Regions from separate parts of the Homo sapiens genome. Here region 1 is linked to region 2. Evidence: fine-mapped expression QTL. Tissue or cell type: thyroid. Region 2 holds a variant in brackets; the other region holds the start of a gene. All regions are shown on one strand. Distances are from middle to middle.

What was found.
Region 1: SH2D4A starts here. The variant in region 2 is fine-mapped to the expression of SH2D4A in thyroid (GTEx, PIP 0.96).

The regions. Positions count from the first base shown.
Region 1 is chr8:19,309,359-19,317,692 of GRCh38, forward strand. It overlaps SH2D4A (SH2 domain containing 4A), which reads left to right and starts at 4,335. Exons shown (of 10, transcript NM_022071.4): 1 at 4,335-4,465. LOC105379306 (a long non-coding RNA gene) reads left to right here. Exons shown (of 4, transcript XR_949550.3): 4 at 2,375-2,466.
Region 2 is chr8:19,280,778-19,289,111 of GRCh38, forward strand. No RefSeq gene overlaps it. Among named protein-coding and RNA genes, the nearest start is that of SH2D4A, 29 kb to the right of the region's middle. The variant A/G (reference allele first, on the strand shown) is at 4,412.

The DNA.
Region 1 (8,334 bases), 29 kb after region 2:
TGCGCTCCATCTCATCCCAATCAAATAACTCCTTGGAGGAGTAGACAAAGAGGCAAATGTTACAAAGAAAATCTCCCTGGGTTATTTTAATATGTACTTGAGAACTGCTGTACTCATTTGCAGAAAATTCCTTATAAAACTAAAAGGGATTTGTGCACTTTTTGCAAAGATTGCCTGTAAGAGAGAAGCTAGGAAATGGAAACGCATTTCTGAATCTGGTCCAAAAAAGAGATGAGATTTGATTTTATGAGTCTAGTAGACCTTATCAAAACTGCCTGGGAAGATCCAAGGAACACCAGAATATTAGAAAAAGTTTGCTTCTGCTCCTTTCTCAGAGCTTTGACCCATAAAAAAGCACTGGTTACCATAGGCCACTGCAGATGTCCCATATCGTTGGGATAGCGACTGTCCAATTCCACCCATAAGTTTGAGGTGAGCAGTTCTCTGAGACACGGGCTGCTTGTCACTGTATTACAGAAATATAAGAAACCACCGGGCATGGTGGCTTACACCTGTAATCCCAGCACTTTGGGAGGCTGAGGCATGCAGATCACGAGGTCAGGAGATTGAGACCAGCCTGACCAACATGGAGAAATCCTGCCTCTGCTAAAAATACAAAAAATTAGCCAGGCGTGGTGGCACACACCTGTAGTCTCAGCTACTCTGGAGGCTAAGGCAGGAGAATCACTTGAACCCGGTAGGTGGAGGTTGCAGTGAGCCAAGATCGTGCCACCACACTCCAGCCTGGAGACAGAGCGAGACTCCATCTAAAACATATATATACACACATACATACATACACACACATACATATATACACATACACATACACACACACACACACACATATATATATGTATATATATATATACACACACACATATGAGAGACCAGAAATGTCTAATTAGCAACTCAGAGTGTGGATTTTAGAGAAAGAACTCCATAAAGGTAACTCTTGGAAAAACATTAAATATTACAGTAATGTAATTGATTCAAAGATGAATGTAAAGACCAATAATTTATCTTGGTGTTTATGAAGATGAAGAAATAAAGGCCCATACAGAACCATACACAAATGAAAATAGTTCAAAATCAAATCTAACTGCTCACAGAGAGCTGAAAACACAGCAGACCCTAAATATATTTTTAATGATTGATGAACTGATTAAGATTTATTTTGAGATTTGATCAGTTTTTAGTAAAGTTTAAATGTTTTTGTATTTTTCTTTCATTTGTACGTTACATTCACTGTGGTACAAGTGTATACCTGCTCTAACAGTTAAAAAGTGGTTGAGGTTTCTGATGCTGATCATAAAATATGACAGGAAAAATACTCTATTTTATAAAGAAAACATATGAAGGCAATTTTCATTGTCTGTAGAACTGAAATAAGGATTAATCTTTATCTCAGAAAAAGTGCAAAGTGGCTTATCCTGTCTTTCTGGCAACAATAGGGCTGGCAGTGTTGCACAACTCCAGGGGGCGCCTTACACATAGTGATCTCTGTGCTTGTCCCCTGCCCACCCACAGTTGTACAAGGGCCATGCTATGCCATTTTACTTGACAGCCCTGGGCAGCAGGGCTCCTAAGCAACAGTCCAAAAGGAAGGCCAAGGAACACATCCATTAAAATGTAGGCTATTTGTTTCATGGTATTCATTACCACGAATAAATGACAAATTAAAAATATTAGTAACCAATAAATAGATGTTTAGCTTTCTCTTTAAGTTCTGGCAGTGAACGCTGCAGCAGAGCATTCCTGAACACATGTTGGTGCTACCATGTTCCATGTCTGTGACTCGTCAGTGGCCAGCCCCTGTCAGCAGTCTTCCCCACATTCGTCCCTATAACACATCCTAGATCATGGAGGGGGGAAATGTTTTCCTCTGAGAGTACTGGCCCAAAGGGAGGGAAAAAGTAACTGAAGGCCCCACAAGTAATAGGCCACCTGATTTTTTTTTAGAGCATTATAAAACATTCTTGGCCAGGCGCAGTGGCTCACGCATGTAACCCAGCACTTTGGGGGGCCAAGGTAGGCAGATCACCTGAGGTAAGGAGTTTGAGACCAGCCTGGCCAACATGGTCAAACTTAGTCTCTACTAAAAAACAAACAAACAAAAAAAAAAAACAAAAACAAAATACAAAGTTAGCCAGTTGTGGTGACAGGTGCCTATAATCCTAGCTACTTGGGAGGCTGAGGCAGGAGAATCACTTGAACTCAGGAGGCCGAGGTTGCAGTGAACCAAGATTGCATCACTGCACTCCAAGCCTGGGCAAAAAGAGTGAAACTCCATCTCAAAAAAAAAAAAAAAAAAAAAAATTCGAATTGTCTACTTTTGAAATTAAGGGAAAAACATCTACCTTTTCTCTTCCAGACCATGCCAATTAAAAGAGGAAATTCCAGGAGTCAGCAGAAAGGAAACAAAAAGAGAAGGTGATAGAGGAGAGGGGAGACCAAGTGAAGAGGATGGAGAAGAAACTATAAAAATAAGAGAAGAAGAAGAGTTCATGGCAAATATAGGAAAGAGCCACGAGACAAGAAGGATGGAAATGGGCAGATGAGAGAAAAGGGAAGAGAGTCTGGGTTCTGAGTTGTTTGCATTATTTGTGTACAGCGTGCGTTCCTTTGGGCTGTCAATATTATTTCAAGATAGAAGCACCAAGGTGTTTCCTTACCTAATCTCTGAAGTGGCAGACCATCATCACTTCTGCCGGGTTCTATTGGTCAAGCATACCAACCTTTACAAAGTGGCAGGGAGCTATGCAAGGATGTGAATACCAGGAGGATAGGATCCCTGGGAATGACTTGGAAGGTAGGTGGCATGGTGGGCAGAACCCACAGCCTAGGGTGAGATGGCAGGAATGTGGAATTCCAGTACCTTAATGTGATATGAACTGATCTGAGTGAATGTGTTTGAACACTCACCACATGCCAAGAGCTCTTCTAATCTCTTTGCATGTAGCATCTCATTTAACCCTCTTGACAACTTACCGAGGCAGACACTCTTTATCTAGAGGAGGAAAGTGAGGTACAGAGGTTAGTAGCACAGTGATAAAGCTGTTATAAGGAAGGACTTGCCAGGACCTGGAGAGAGACTGGGTGTGAGGAAGGTAGGCTGTCACAGTGTCCTGTGGGATTTTTCCTAACTGATAAACCACCCTGTATGGTTCAACTGATGCATCCATGCAGGGCTAGGATTCATTCTGACCTCGTCATAGCAGCTTTCCAGGGGCCAATCCCACTCCAGCCTAAAGCACCCCATATGCTATCATTTAAACTGCAGTAGGAACTAAGCCTTACACCAGAAATTCCTCCCTGATGGGATTCCTGGAATTGTTCCTAAATAGCTGGGTCTTATTTCCTGACAATGCCGCCTGCCCCGAGGCTTGATGTAACTCTGCACAGCTTCTGCAGTTTGGAGAGGCAGGGAAATGCCATTTTGTGTTTGAATCCAGCAGGTCAGGCTCCTAAAGAGGTCAGGTAGTCCGTGGAGAGGACTACTGGTGTTTACTGTTTATTACATCTCTCCCAATACACAAAATCTGGGGTTCACCAAAGCAGGCGGTTTTCTTCCACATGCTCCTCTAGGATGGAAAATGCCCTCCAGTGGAAATGCCTTTCCACTGTGCTTCTGCTCAATTTTCCTCCAAGATTTCCTCTAACTGTGGACTGCCAGCTCCTCCCTGACGTCTTCAGGCACCAAGCCAACCTGTTCTTGTTGCAATCCTCAAGACTCCTTTCAGCATCTTAACTTTTCCCCCAGTTTTCTTTCATTTTCTCCACCTGTCTGTGTTGACTGCGGTCTCCTTCCTTCCAGCCTTTTCCTTCCTTCATCTTGTCCTACAAAGCCACACGTGTACCGACAAGTGCCAAAGAGTTTGATCATTTACTTAATGTCAACAAAAGAAAAAAAAAAAAAGCTCCAGAGTCGCCTTGGCCTGCAGCACCCAAGCAGAGTGAACAAGTGGGGCCTGCGCACCCTCCTACCCTACACCTAGCAAGGAACCCCGAGCTCTGAAACGTGGAAAGGCCCAGATCTGCAGATTTAATCTAAGTCCTGCAGTCCCCAAGAGATCACAGACTGCAGATCCCTGTCTCATGAACTAAGAGAGGAGAGGACAAGCCTACCCCGGACTACCGCAGCTCGGGGACAGCGCGCGGGCCAGGCGGCCCGAGATGCGCAGGCCACGCAGCCTCGCCGACGAGTGGCCCTGGAGAGCCTCCAGGCGCCCGGGTGGGGCCGCGATTGCGCCCCGCCAGTCACCCCGGCATGTGGGCGCGGCGGGGCGGCGCGGGCGGGACGGCTACAAGAGCTGTTTTGCGTCCGGGCCGGAGTATTTGCTCAGCCCGCCTGCGCCGCTTGGGACGCCTCTGCCTTTCCCTCCCTCCCTTCCCCGACGGCTTCTGGCGGCCAAGTGGATGTGGCGGGTGATCGAGCCACCCTGCCCAGGGGCGCCCAGCACTGGTAGGTGCTGGGGGTGGGGCGAGGCTTTGGGGAGAGTGTGCGTGGGGTGGGAGTAGGGGGAAGGGAATTTCCTCGGAGGTTGCATGGGTGCATGGGAGGCGCAGGGGCCAGAGCGGGCGGGCGGAAGCCTCACCCCCGCCTCCACCCCTTCGCGGCGCCCGGGGCGGGCTCAGGTGCGGGGTTGGGCGGCGAGAGCGGCCGCGGCGGGTGTCCGGTGTCCGGTGTCCGGTGTCCGGTGTCTGGAGCCGCTGGCTAGGTGAGCGGCGGTCCCCGGGGCCTGGGGGCTTGCAGGGGGTGGCGGGGGAACTTCGAGGGAGAGGGTCTGCCGGGGCTGAGGACCTTCGGGGAAGTTCTGGAATCCGGCAGGGACACGCGGCGCGTGCTTCCACCCGCGGGGAGTGCAGGCCCCGGGAGGGTCCGGGCTGGCCTAGAGTTTCTAGACTCCTAGCAGGAGCACGTCCTCGACTTGCGCATGGAAATCTTCCAGGAGGGAAGTCCCGGGAAACGGTGGCAGCTGGCGCAGCACCCCCGCAGCACGTTCCCCGCGCACCGGCACCCAGGGGCGCCCCCACGTGGGGTCTGGGAGCGCGCGGAGGCCAGTGCAGCGCCGCCTCCCTCGGGCTGCAGCGGCGGGGCTGGCCCAGACCCAGACCGGGTGCCCAGTGCGCTCAGCCAAGCGGCGCCCCTGCCCGCTCCTGGACTCGGGGGTCACGCGGGCACCGGAAGGAGCTACAGTTTGTAGGTTTTCTGAGTTGTCTCTCCCTTCCCAGGGAGCTTAGAGAAGCAGCAAGCGTGGCACCTCCCCCTTTCAAACAGATGCTCCTCATCGCTCCAAAGGCTTTCGTTTGATTGCTGGTTTAATAGAAACAACGACTTGGGTACGATTATTTTAAAATAGTGAATAAATAAGTGGAAAGCATACAGGGGCATAGATTTGGCATATGAGTGGAATTCTCTATGTATACTAAATCTGTGTGTACAGTAATCTCAAATTTCTGAAGAATAGTATATATTTACAAACTGCTGTCATCTCTGGTAATTTGTTTCATCCTCAAAAACAGCCCTTTTGCTGGTAGATGAATAAGATAAAGTTTCAATAAGAAAACAAAGTTGGACCACAGAGCTGGCTGTTTTAAAAGAATTAGAATTCAAACTGTATTGTTAATGTTATAGTTACACTGTCCATACCACAATACTTTTATTTATTTTTTATTTTATTAGGTCGGTGCAAAAGTAATTGCGGTTTTTACGTAAAAAAAACCGCAGTTACTTTTTTTTTGGCCATGTAAAACACAATAACTTTTGCACCGACCTAATGTTTTTAATTTTTGAGACAGGGTCTCCTTCTGTCACCCAGGCTGTGGTGCAGTGGTGCGATCTCGGCTCACTGTAGCCTCAAACTCTCCAACTCAAGAGATCCCCCCACCTCAACCTCCCAAGTAGGTGGGACTATAGGTGCGGGCCACCACGCCTGGCTAATTTTTATACTTTATGTAGAGACGGAGTTTTGCCATGTTGCCCAAGCAGGTCTTGAACTCCTGAGCTCCAGCAATCCACCCATGTCCACCTCCCAAAGTGTTGGGATTACATGTAGAACCACTGTGCCCGCCTACTATTTTTATGATTTAGCCTGTATCTAAGGCCTTTTAAAATTGTATTTTGTTTAGGTCTCAGAGTTATTCAAAAGACAGTTGTATTGTAGAACAGTGTGAAGGTGTGAGAATCAGGCCAAATCTATGGTATCATGGAAAACAACGGATTCTCTGACCTTTTAGCAATTGGTGTTCAGAATAAATAGCAGGTGTGGGCTTGTTGCTTATCATTTCTCTCTTTTAAGAAAGGGGCTGTGTTAGCTGAGCTATTCCTTTGTTGGATCTTGAATAACCGGAGATTTGCTGCCCTTGATATAGTATGGGAAAGTCCTCTGAGTTTGAATCAGTATCAGCAATGATTACTTCCTTGTCAGGGAGTGAAAGTAGGAAAGCCCTAGTTAGTTAATTTCCTGATTTCTATTTCTTCTACCCTGGCTCCACCAGGCTCCTTCGCTTCACAGTAGATTATGTCAGATACCCACACATTAGAAGTCACAGACTGAACCAGTCCTCGTTTCACAGATGAGGAAACTGAGTCCCAAGGAGGTGAGGTGACAGCACAGAGTCACACCGCTCACTAGAGGCGGAGCTGGGAGTTGAGGCTGGAGTGCCTCTGGGTGTCTTGGGTGTACTGTGCTGAGCTTGAGTTGGGGTCTGAGAAAGCCTTGGAGCGGGGGTTAGGGGTTGGGAATTAGAGGGTGAGGGGGACAGGTGATTTACACCAGTACCATTCAGCAGTGGCAGAATGGCCACATCGTCAACGGCCTGACCACAGATAGTTGTCGGCTGGGTCCCCCAAGTATTCTTGGAGGCACAAGGAAGCCAGTGTCTTTCCTTCAAGATGAACTAGTTAATTTTAATGTTAGAAATCCACGTTTGCTATAAAAAGTAAAACAAAACAACATAAAAATGGAAATAATGTGAGAATTTCATCACAGAGGTGCCATGAACCTCCTTGCACATGTGAGAGGCTGTGCTTTTTGTGCTGTTCTTAGTGTTTGTTTGGAAGGGGAAATTGTAGAGACGAAGTGGATGACTAAGTGCAAGGGGAAATGGGACTAAGTGTCTGGTGAATACGTGGGTAAGCAATGTCCACACCTGGGTCAGTGTGACAGTCGGTTCCTTGCTGTCCTTCCTGGCTGGGGTGTGTGCACCTGGCCTCCCCTAAGCTTAGCTACAGTTGACCAGGAGGAGGCTTCTGCCCTGTGTCAAGCACCATCAGTTCAGCGTTTCTGTTGCTGCAGGAATTTGCTGGCTTCCATTCTGAAATTTCATACATGGCACCACATCCTGCTGTTCTGATTCTGGGCACACAAATAAACTCACAAAAAGGCCTCTGTGTTGTGTATTACAGTGAAGCTGAGTTAGAGCTGGACTGCCCGGCTCTGCCGCTTACCAGCTGCTGACCTGTGCTCTATCTTCCTAATCTGTGAGATGGGCATAGTGATGGGCTGGACTCCAAGGGTTATTGTGAAGATTAAGTGAGTTAACACATGTAGAGTGCTTAATTAAGATGGTGCCTGGTACAAGAAGTGTTAGCTGTGTTATCAGGAATATGCAGGGCGGGGGAGACTGGAGGAATATGACTTTGACACTTTAAGGGTTTTAGATTCTAGGATCTACCCATGCCTTGAATAGGATTCGCTGCATTCAAAATGGGGAACACAGCAGAAGTCTCAACCCCAGCTGAACTGTTCATCTTCTGCCGTGTGTGATTTCTGCGAAAACCAACCATTGAACTTAAGGACATTTACTGGAATGTCAAGGAGTCATTCTGTCTCCTTTCTTACCACTTTATCTTGGAGCTTGTGGATTTCATTGGCTCCACCCTTTGAGAAGCTGCTAGAAACAAAAAGTCAAAAGTCAAGAAATCTTGACAAGACATCCATTTTTTTTTTTTTTTTTTTTTTTGGCTGTTCAAGCCTTTAAGGGTATCTCAATGCAAAATACAAAGTTGGCAAGTGGATCTGGGAAGGGCGTGATATTACTTTTAGTCCTTTAAAATTTTTCTCTTAATGTTTGGTTCCATTTGGATTCTGGTAGTTGAATGCTGCCGAGATGATAGGTTGCAGTCAGTAGGGATAGGTGTAGTTTCATCAAGGGCCTGGCTTCACAATGAACAGTCAGCGAATCTAAGAGCTGAGTATGCACACCACTCTGTGGTAGCCTAGCTGTTGAGCGTGCTTGTCTCAAAAGACAGGTGTAAATCAAGGAACTACTTTGCACGGAAGAGGAGGAAGACGGGAAGCTGAAGGAGGCCCCCAGATGGTGAGAGGG
Region 2 (8,334 bases):
GTATGGGTGTCTTTTTTAATATAATGATTGACTTCTTTTTCTTTGGGTAGATATCCAAGTAGTGAGATAGCTGGATAGAATGGTAGATCTACTTTTAATTCTTTGGGAAATCTCCATGCTGTTTTCCACTGAGGTTGTACTAATTTACATTCCTACCAGCAGTGTATAAGTATTCATTTTCACCACATCCACACCAACATCTATTATTTTTGACTTTTTAGCAATGGCCTTTCTGGCTGGGGTAAGGTGCTATCCCATTGTCGTTTTAATTTGCATTTCTCTGTAGATTAGTGACGTTGAGCATTTTTTATATGTTTGTTAGCCATTTGTATATCTTCTAGAAATGTCTATTCATGTCATTTCCCACTTTTAATGGGATTATTTGTTTTTTTCCTGCTGATTTGATTGAGTTCACTGTAGATTCTGGATATTAGTCCTTTGTCAGATACATAGTTTGCAAATATTTTCTCCCAGGTTGTGGGTTGTCTATTTACGCTGATGACTATTTGTTTTGCTGTGCAGAAGGTTTTTAGCTTAATTAAGCCCCAATTGTTTATTTTGATTATTGTTGCATTTGATTTTGGGGTCTTAGTCCTAAATTATTTGCATAGGCCAATGTCTAGAAGAGTTTTTCCTAGGTTTTCTTCTAGAATTTTTATAGTTTCAGGTCTTAGACTTAAGTCTTTATCCATCTTGAGTTGATTTTGTATATGATGAGAGATAGGCATCAGGTTTCATTCTTCTACATATGGCTATCCAGTTTTCCCAGAATCATTTGTTGAATAGAGTGTACTTTCCTCAATTTCTATTTTTGTGTGCTTTGTCAAAGATCAGCTGGTTTTAAGTATTTGGCTTTATTTCTGAGTTCCCTATTCTGTTCCATTGGTCTATGTAGCTGCTCTTATATCAGTACCATGCTGTTTTGGTTACTATATAGCCTTGTAGTATAATTTAAAGTTGGGTAAAGTGATGCTTCCAGATTTGTTCTTTTCACTTAGGATTGCTTTGGCTATTCAGGCTCTTTTCGGTTCCATATGAATTTTAGTATTGTTTTTCTAGTTTTGTGAAAAATCTTGTTGTTATTTTGATAGGAATTGCATTGAATCTGTAGATTGCTTTGGGCAGTATGGTCATTTTCACAGTGTTGATTCTTCCAATCCATGAGCATGGGATGTATTTCCATTTGCTTGTGTCATCCGTGATTTAACTCAGCAGTATTTTGTAGTTTTTCTTGTAGAGAACTTTCATCTCCTTAGTTAAGTATATTCCTAGATTTTTTGTTTATTTGTTTGTATCTAATATGAAAAAGATTGAATTCTCAATTTGATTATCTGCTTTGTCATTGTTGGTGTATAGCAATGCTACTGATTTGCATATATTGATTTTGTAGCCTGAGACTTTACTGCATTCATTTATCAAATTTAGGAGTCGTTTGGAGGAGTCTAGGGTTTTCTAGGTATATGATCATATCATCACCAAACAGAGACAGTTTGACTTCCTGTTTTCCAGTTTGGATGCCGTTTATTTCTTTTGCCTGACTGCTCTGGCTAGGACTTTCAGTACTATGTTGAACAGAAGTGGTTAAAGTGGGCATCCTTGTCTCCTTCCATTTCTTAAGAGGAAGGCTTTCAACTCTTCTTCATTCAGTATGATGTTGGCTGTGGGTTTGTCAAATATGGCTTTTGTTATTTTGAGGCATGTTCCTTCTATGCCTAGTGTTTTGAGGGTTTTTATCATAAAGTGATGCTGGATTTTATTGAATGCTTTTTCTGTGCCTATTGACATAACCAGATGGGTTTTGTTTTTAATTCTGTTTATGTGGTGGGACCATATTTATTGTATAGTGTATATTGAACCATCCCTGCATTCCTAAGATGAAATCCACTTGATCATGGTGAATTATCTCTTTGATGTGCTGTTGGATTCACTGTGCTAGTATTTTGTTGAGGGTTTTTGCATCCATGGTCATCAGGGATATTGGTCTGTAGTTTTCCGTTTTTGTTATGTTCTTTCCTGGCTTTGGTATCAGTGTGATACTGGCTTCATAGAATGAATTAGGAGGATTCTCTCTTTCTCAATCTTTTGGATTCATTTCAGTAGGATTGGTGCCAATTCTTCTTTGTATGTTTGGTAGAATTTGGCTGTTAATCCATCTGGCCCTGGGCTTTTTTTTGTTGTTGGCAAATTTTTTATTACTGATTCAGTCTCACTGCTTGTTATTGACCTACTCAGGATTTTATTTTTCCTTGATTATTCAAGCTATGAGAATTGTATGTTTCCAGAAATGTATTCATTTCTTCTAGATTTTCTAGTGTGTGCCTAAAGATGTTCATATTTGTCTCAAAGGATCTTTTGCATTTCTATGGTTTTAGTTGTAATGTTTCCATTTTTGTTTCTAATTGAGCTTATTTACATCTTCTTTCTACTGGGTTAATCTAGTTAATAATCTATCAATTTTGTTTATTTTTTCAAAAAACCAATGTTTCATTTCATTGATCTTTTGTATTTTTTTGTTTCAGTTTCATTTAGTTCTTCTGTGATCTTTGCTATTTCCTTCCTCCTGCTACTTTTGGGTTTGGATTGTTTTTGTTTCTCTAGTTCCTTGAGGTATGACATTAGGTTGTTAATTTGTGATCCTTCAGACTTTTCGATGTAGACATTTATAACTACAGGTTATGAGGTTTTGATAACTTGTGTCACTGTTACGATTCATTTTGGAGGATTTTTAAATTTCCGTCTTGATTTCATACCCCAAAATCACCTAGGAGCATACTGTTTAATTTCCATATGTTTGTATAGTTTTGAGGGTTTCCTTTAGAACTGATTTCTAGTTTTAGTCTGCTGTGGACTGAGAAGATACTTAACATAATTTTGATTTTTTAAAATTTACTGACCTTGTTTTGTGGCCTATCATCTGGCCTACCTTAGAGAGTGTTCCACGTGCTGATGAGAATAATGTATATTCTGCAGTTCTTGGGTAGAATGTTCTGTAAATATCTGTTTGGTCTATTTGTCCCAGAGTGCAGGTTAAGTCCAGTGTCTCCATGTTGACTTTCCCCCTTGATGATCTGTCTAGTGCCATCAGTAGAGTGTTGAAGTCCCCCACTGTTATTGCATTGTTTAATTGATCCTTTTATCATTATATCTTCTTGTATAATTGATCCTTTTATCAGTATGTAATGTCCATTTTTGTCTTTTTTTACCATTGTTGTTTTAAAGTCTGTTTTATTTGATGTAAGAATAGCAACTCCTGCTCACTTTTATTTCCATTTGCACAGAATGTTTTTTTACTCATTTACCTTGAATCTGTAAGAATTCTTATGTATTAGGTGTGTCTCTTGAAGAGAGCACATATTAAGTTTGTGATTTTTAAAATCCATTCTGCCAATCTGTATCTTTTAAGCGGAGCGTTTAGACTACTTACATTTAATGCTGTTAATATTGAGATGTGAGGTACGGTTCCCAAAATCATGTTGCTTTTTATCTAGTTACTTTGTTTTCTTCATTTGTTATTGTTTTATAGGCCCTGTAAATTTTAGGCTATCAAGAGTTTATACTCTAGTGCATGTGAACCTTTTTTTTTTTCTTCAAGATTTAGAACTCTTTTTAGCACTTTTTTTTGTAAGACTAGTCTGACAGTGACAAATTCTCTCAGTATTTGCTCATCTGAGAAAGACTTTATTTCTCCTTCATTTATGAAACTTAGTTTTGCTGGATACAAAATTCTTGGCTGAGAGTTATTCTCTTTAAGGAGACTAAAGATAGGAGCCCAATCCTTTACAGCTTATAAAATTCCTGCTAAGAAGTCTGCTGTCCGTCTGATAGATTTCCCTTTATAGGTTACCTGATGCTTTTTTGTCTCACTGCTCTCAGAATTTTTTCTTTCATGTCAACATTAGATAATCTGATGACTATATGCCTTGGTGATGTCCTTCTTCATAACTCTCTCAGTAGTTCTTTGAGCTTCTTATATTTAGATGTCTAAATCTCTAGCAAGGCAAGGGAAGATTTCCTCAATTATTCCTTCAAATACATTTTCCAAACTTTTTGCTTTTCCTTCTCCTTCTGGAACACCAGTGATTCTTAGGTTTGGCCATTTCACATAATCCTGTATGTCTTGAAGACTTTGTTTCCTTCTTTAAATTCTTCTTTCTGCTGTCTGATAGGGTTTATTCAAAAGCCTTGTCTTCAAGCTTTAAAATTATTTCTTCTACTTGGTCTAGTCTATTGTTAAAACTCAACTGCATTTTGTAATTTTCTAATTGTATTTTTCATTTCCAGAAGTTCTGATTGGTTTTTCTTTAAAATATCTATCTCTTTAGAACATTTTTCATTCATACCCTGAATTCTTTTAATTTCTTTACGTTGGTTTTTGCCTTTATTTTCCATCTCCTTTAATAACTTAATAATC[A/G]ACCTTTTGAATTTTTTATCTAGTATTTCAAAGCTTTCATCTTGGTTTGGATTCATTGCTGATCTTTTGAGGAGAGTTATAGAACCGTATTTTTTCATATTGCCAGAATTATTTTTCTAGTTTCTTCTCATTTGGATAGACTATTTCTTCTAATCATTTTGAAATTTTTTTTCATTTGACTGTGCTTTAAAAAAAATTTCAGGTTTTTTTCCCCCCTTAAGGATGTGGCTTTAATATTTATAGTTTATTGTAACCTAATTTGGCTCTGGGTGCTTTCAGTGGTGAAGATTCTGTATGAGTTCCTTGGCTATAGAGAGTCTCTGTGTGATCACATTCTCAGGTGCTAGTTGTAGTAACAATGTGCTCTGTGTGTGAGTGGCTTCACTGTCTCCTGTGAGGCTGAAATGGCAGAGGTCTCATGAAGCTTATCTCATTACCCAGTGGTGTGCACTTATTTATTTATTTTTCCCCATTTATTTCCTCACTGGGTTGAATAGTTTAGGCTTCAGGCCAGTAGGAAGTTTCCACAGGTAAAAAGTAGCTGTGGCTAAAGCAGGTGGGTAAACATAACACCCAATGGTGGGCAGAGGACCCAGCCTTGCCAGAGGCAGCTGGGGAAGCTCTCAGTGACATGTGTTGAGACCTTTTTGGGGAAAGGATGGGAGCCACTTTAGTTCTCCTACTAGGCCAGCAGGAAGGTGATCCACCTGTCAGTCACACTTCTTACCTAGTGTTCTAGCCATTCAAATCAAACAAGCACTTCTTTTTATCTGCAGGAATGCTGATGTTCCACATAGATGGGTCTTGTGACTGTACCCCTCATGCAAACTTAAACCTGGATGGCACTCCTCTTATGGGGATGTAGTCACCCTGAAGTGTTACAGAAAGGCTGTCTACAGCTGCACCCATGCTGAGCTCCCATGGGCGAAGCCTCCGCTGTGTCTGCAGTGGTGGGTGAGAGGAAGAAGAAGTCTCCTTTTCCAAGATGCTTCATGAGCCTTGGGGCTGCCTGAATGTTGGGGTAGAGCTGCAGACTTTCCCCACTGAGCCCAGCATTCCACTTGTGTCTCTGCTGAAACATTTTGTAAGCAGAAAGTTCCAGGACTCAAGTCCTACCGACTGGATTCTGTTATCCCACAGTATGCTCCCTTAATGTGGTGCATTCTCCCTTCCCTTAGAAGTAGGAATCCCTGAGAGCTAGACTACTGTGAATCCTGCTGCTTCTCTGGGTCTAGCTGTGCAGTGGGACTGCCACACTTCAGGCTGGTGCTAGGGGATGTCCACAAAAGATCCAGTGATGTGACCTCTCTTTTAGCCTTCCAGCAGCAGGTACCAGCAACAACTCTGATGGTGTTGGAATGGGAATGATGTAGACTCTGTGAGATTTCCTTCCTTATAAATCACCTTAGTATGTTGTTCTTCTCAAATGCCAGGTGTACTGGTAACGTACTGGTCATGTAGACAGAGTGAAGCCTTCCTGGTTAGGCAGGGTGATGCAGGCTTGGGTAATAGCTAAGGTTGTGCAAAAGTGTACTCGTTCCTAGGCACTGTGTTACTGTACCTGCAAATGTTGTAATGGCATGTATTGGTTGGCCTCCAGCTAGGAGGTGGTGCGTGCTTGCAAAAGAATGCCAGTTGCAGTGGTACTGGTGGGATTTGTGCTTGCCTTATGTTATCCAGGGGAGGTATTCTGGTGTCTCAGACAATGGGTGGCACCATGGAGCTCTCAAAATTACCTGTCCTTTATACTAAGCTACCAGGGTAGGTAGAGGGACAAAATCAGGTGGCGCTGGGCCAGGCAAGGCTGTATCCTACTTTCCCATGTACAGGTGCAAGCAGCGGCCCCAGTGGAGATTGGAGGGCGGTTCCCTGGCTACTGGGGTAATAATCCAGGTGGACCAAAGCTGCCTCTGCTGCACAGAAGAATCTGCACAAGGAGTGGGGAGGAGCAGGCAGCAGTAAGCCCTATCCAGCTCCCATGCGCTTGGCAAGGCAGGTCTCACACATGCAGTGTTCCACCAGCAGCAGCTAGCTGGGTTGGAGTTAGCCTGCACTCTGAACCCAGAACTGCCCCAGGCTATAAACCTTCCCTATCCAGACAGAAACTGAGGTTTTCCAACTACACTTCTCCTGGTCTGCCTGTGAAACAGCACAATCAGCTCCTGCACGTGTGGCTAAAGCACACACACTGCTTGTGCCTCAGTTCTGGACAAGGGGGTTCATCACCACTCAAAATTATATCACAAATCTCAGTTGGGAGCTTCTCTCAACCTGTGACCACCACCTGAGTTAGCTGGCTGATTTCTGCAAGGTCCCCTATTAGGTAGGATCATGAATGGCTTCCTTCTGTCCCTGCTGGAGTCTGGGAATGCACAAAAAGCACATCCCAATGCTGCTCCTTCTCATACACTCCCTACCGCTTACAAAATCAGCACTGGGCAGGGTTAAGGCCTCACCCCATGGCCTGGATTGCCAGGCCCCACAGTAGGAGTGAATATCATGGAGGCAGCGTCTTCCACCTCATGCTCTAGGGACTCACAGTTTTCTGCCTGGCTCATTCATGGTGTAGGCTGCCGCCTTCTGCTTCTTTCAAAGGGTCTGTAGTTTCTTTCCGTTGTTTTGTTAAGTTCTTGTGTTGCTTCTTTGAAAAAAGTTCACAGCATAAATCCCTACACTCTATTTTGTCTTTCCAAGGGGAGAGGCAGGCTAACAGTGTCTCCAATCCGCCATCTTGGAAACAAAATGTTTTCCCCTTATTTTTTAATTAGTTCAGAACTTGAGGGGGAAGAAAAAGAGTGGCACTATTTTGGGGGGACTCTTCAAGAACTCCAATTTAAGACTTTGGCAAATATTTTCTGATGATGAAACTACTATCTGATAGAGCAGAGGGAGAGAGCTGTCTAAAGAATCATGTAGCCCCAAGAGGAGGCTCTGGAAAGGAAGTGTATACAGGAAATGCAGGAAAAAGAAAATAAGGCAAGACTTATGATCGTCATGTATCTGAATTAATCATTGTTCTGATTCCTACTTTACTGATTAGGTATCAATAAAGCTGCACAAGGGAAAGCAGTTTGTTTTGTTTCATTGCTGAATTTTTAGCGCTTAGAGTTCTGCCTGGCACATAGTAGTTGGTCAATGAACACTTTTTAAATAAACAAATAAAATGCAATTGCCCGTGGTGGAATTATAGATTTCTTTTACAGGTGACTACACTGAAGCCAAGGGAACTTGATTACCCAAACAGAAACTGCTAATTCATGGCAGAATCCAGGCTTCCTGGACGCTATTAAAATGCTTTTTCCATTATAACATGCTGCTCCCCTGGGTAGCCTCCCACCTACAAGCCCTTGCCAAATTATCTTACCTCTAATCTAATTAACTTTAAAGCTCTTTATTCTCTGACTTTAATGTTTTGGGCTACTCCAGCAAAGTGGTTGCTCTCCCCAAAAAAATGACTCTCTGAGTCTCTGTGCATTTTCTTCCCTCTACCTGGAATAGACAGCGACTCATCAAATCTTTAAGTTTCCATTCATAAACCTTCTTGCTTCCAAGAACCTCTTCCTGATCAACCTTATTCATCTTTAGTCATACGTTAAGGCATTTATTTTACCTACTTGTAAATATTTTCATAACTACATTATTTTTACTTAAACTTTAGGTAGAACTAAAAACATATTGGAGTGGGCACCCAGATCTCATCTATTTGCCTTTCTCTGGAAATTGTCACCTAGCTTCATTCCTACCCAAAACACAGGGTGAGCCAATAGCTATGGCTGTACTTGAAGATCCAATCTTCCTGGTCATAGTGATGAATCCAGGTGTGAACAGCTGACCCACCCTGGGCTGAGCAGACTGCCTGTTCTAGAAATTGAAAATTCCAAGTTGAGAGACGCAGAGGGAAAGAAGGGGATTGGAGGGAGGGA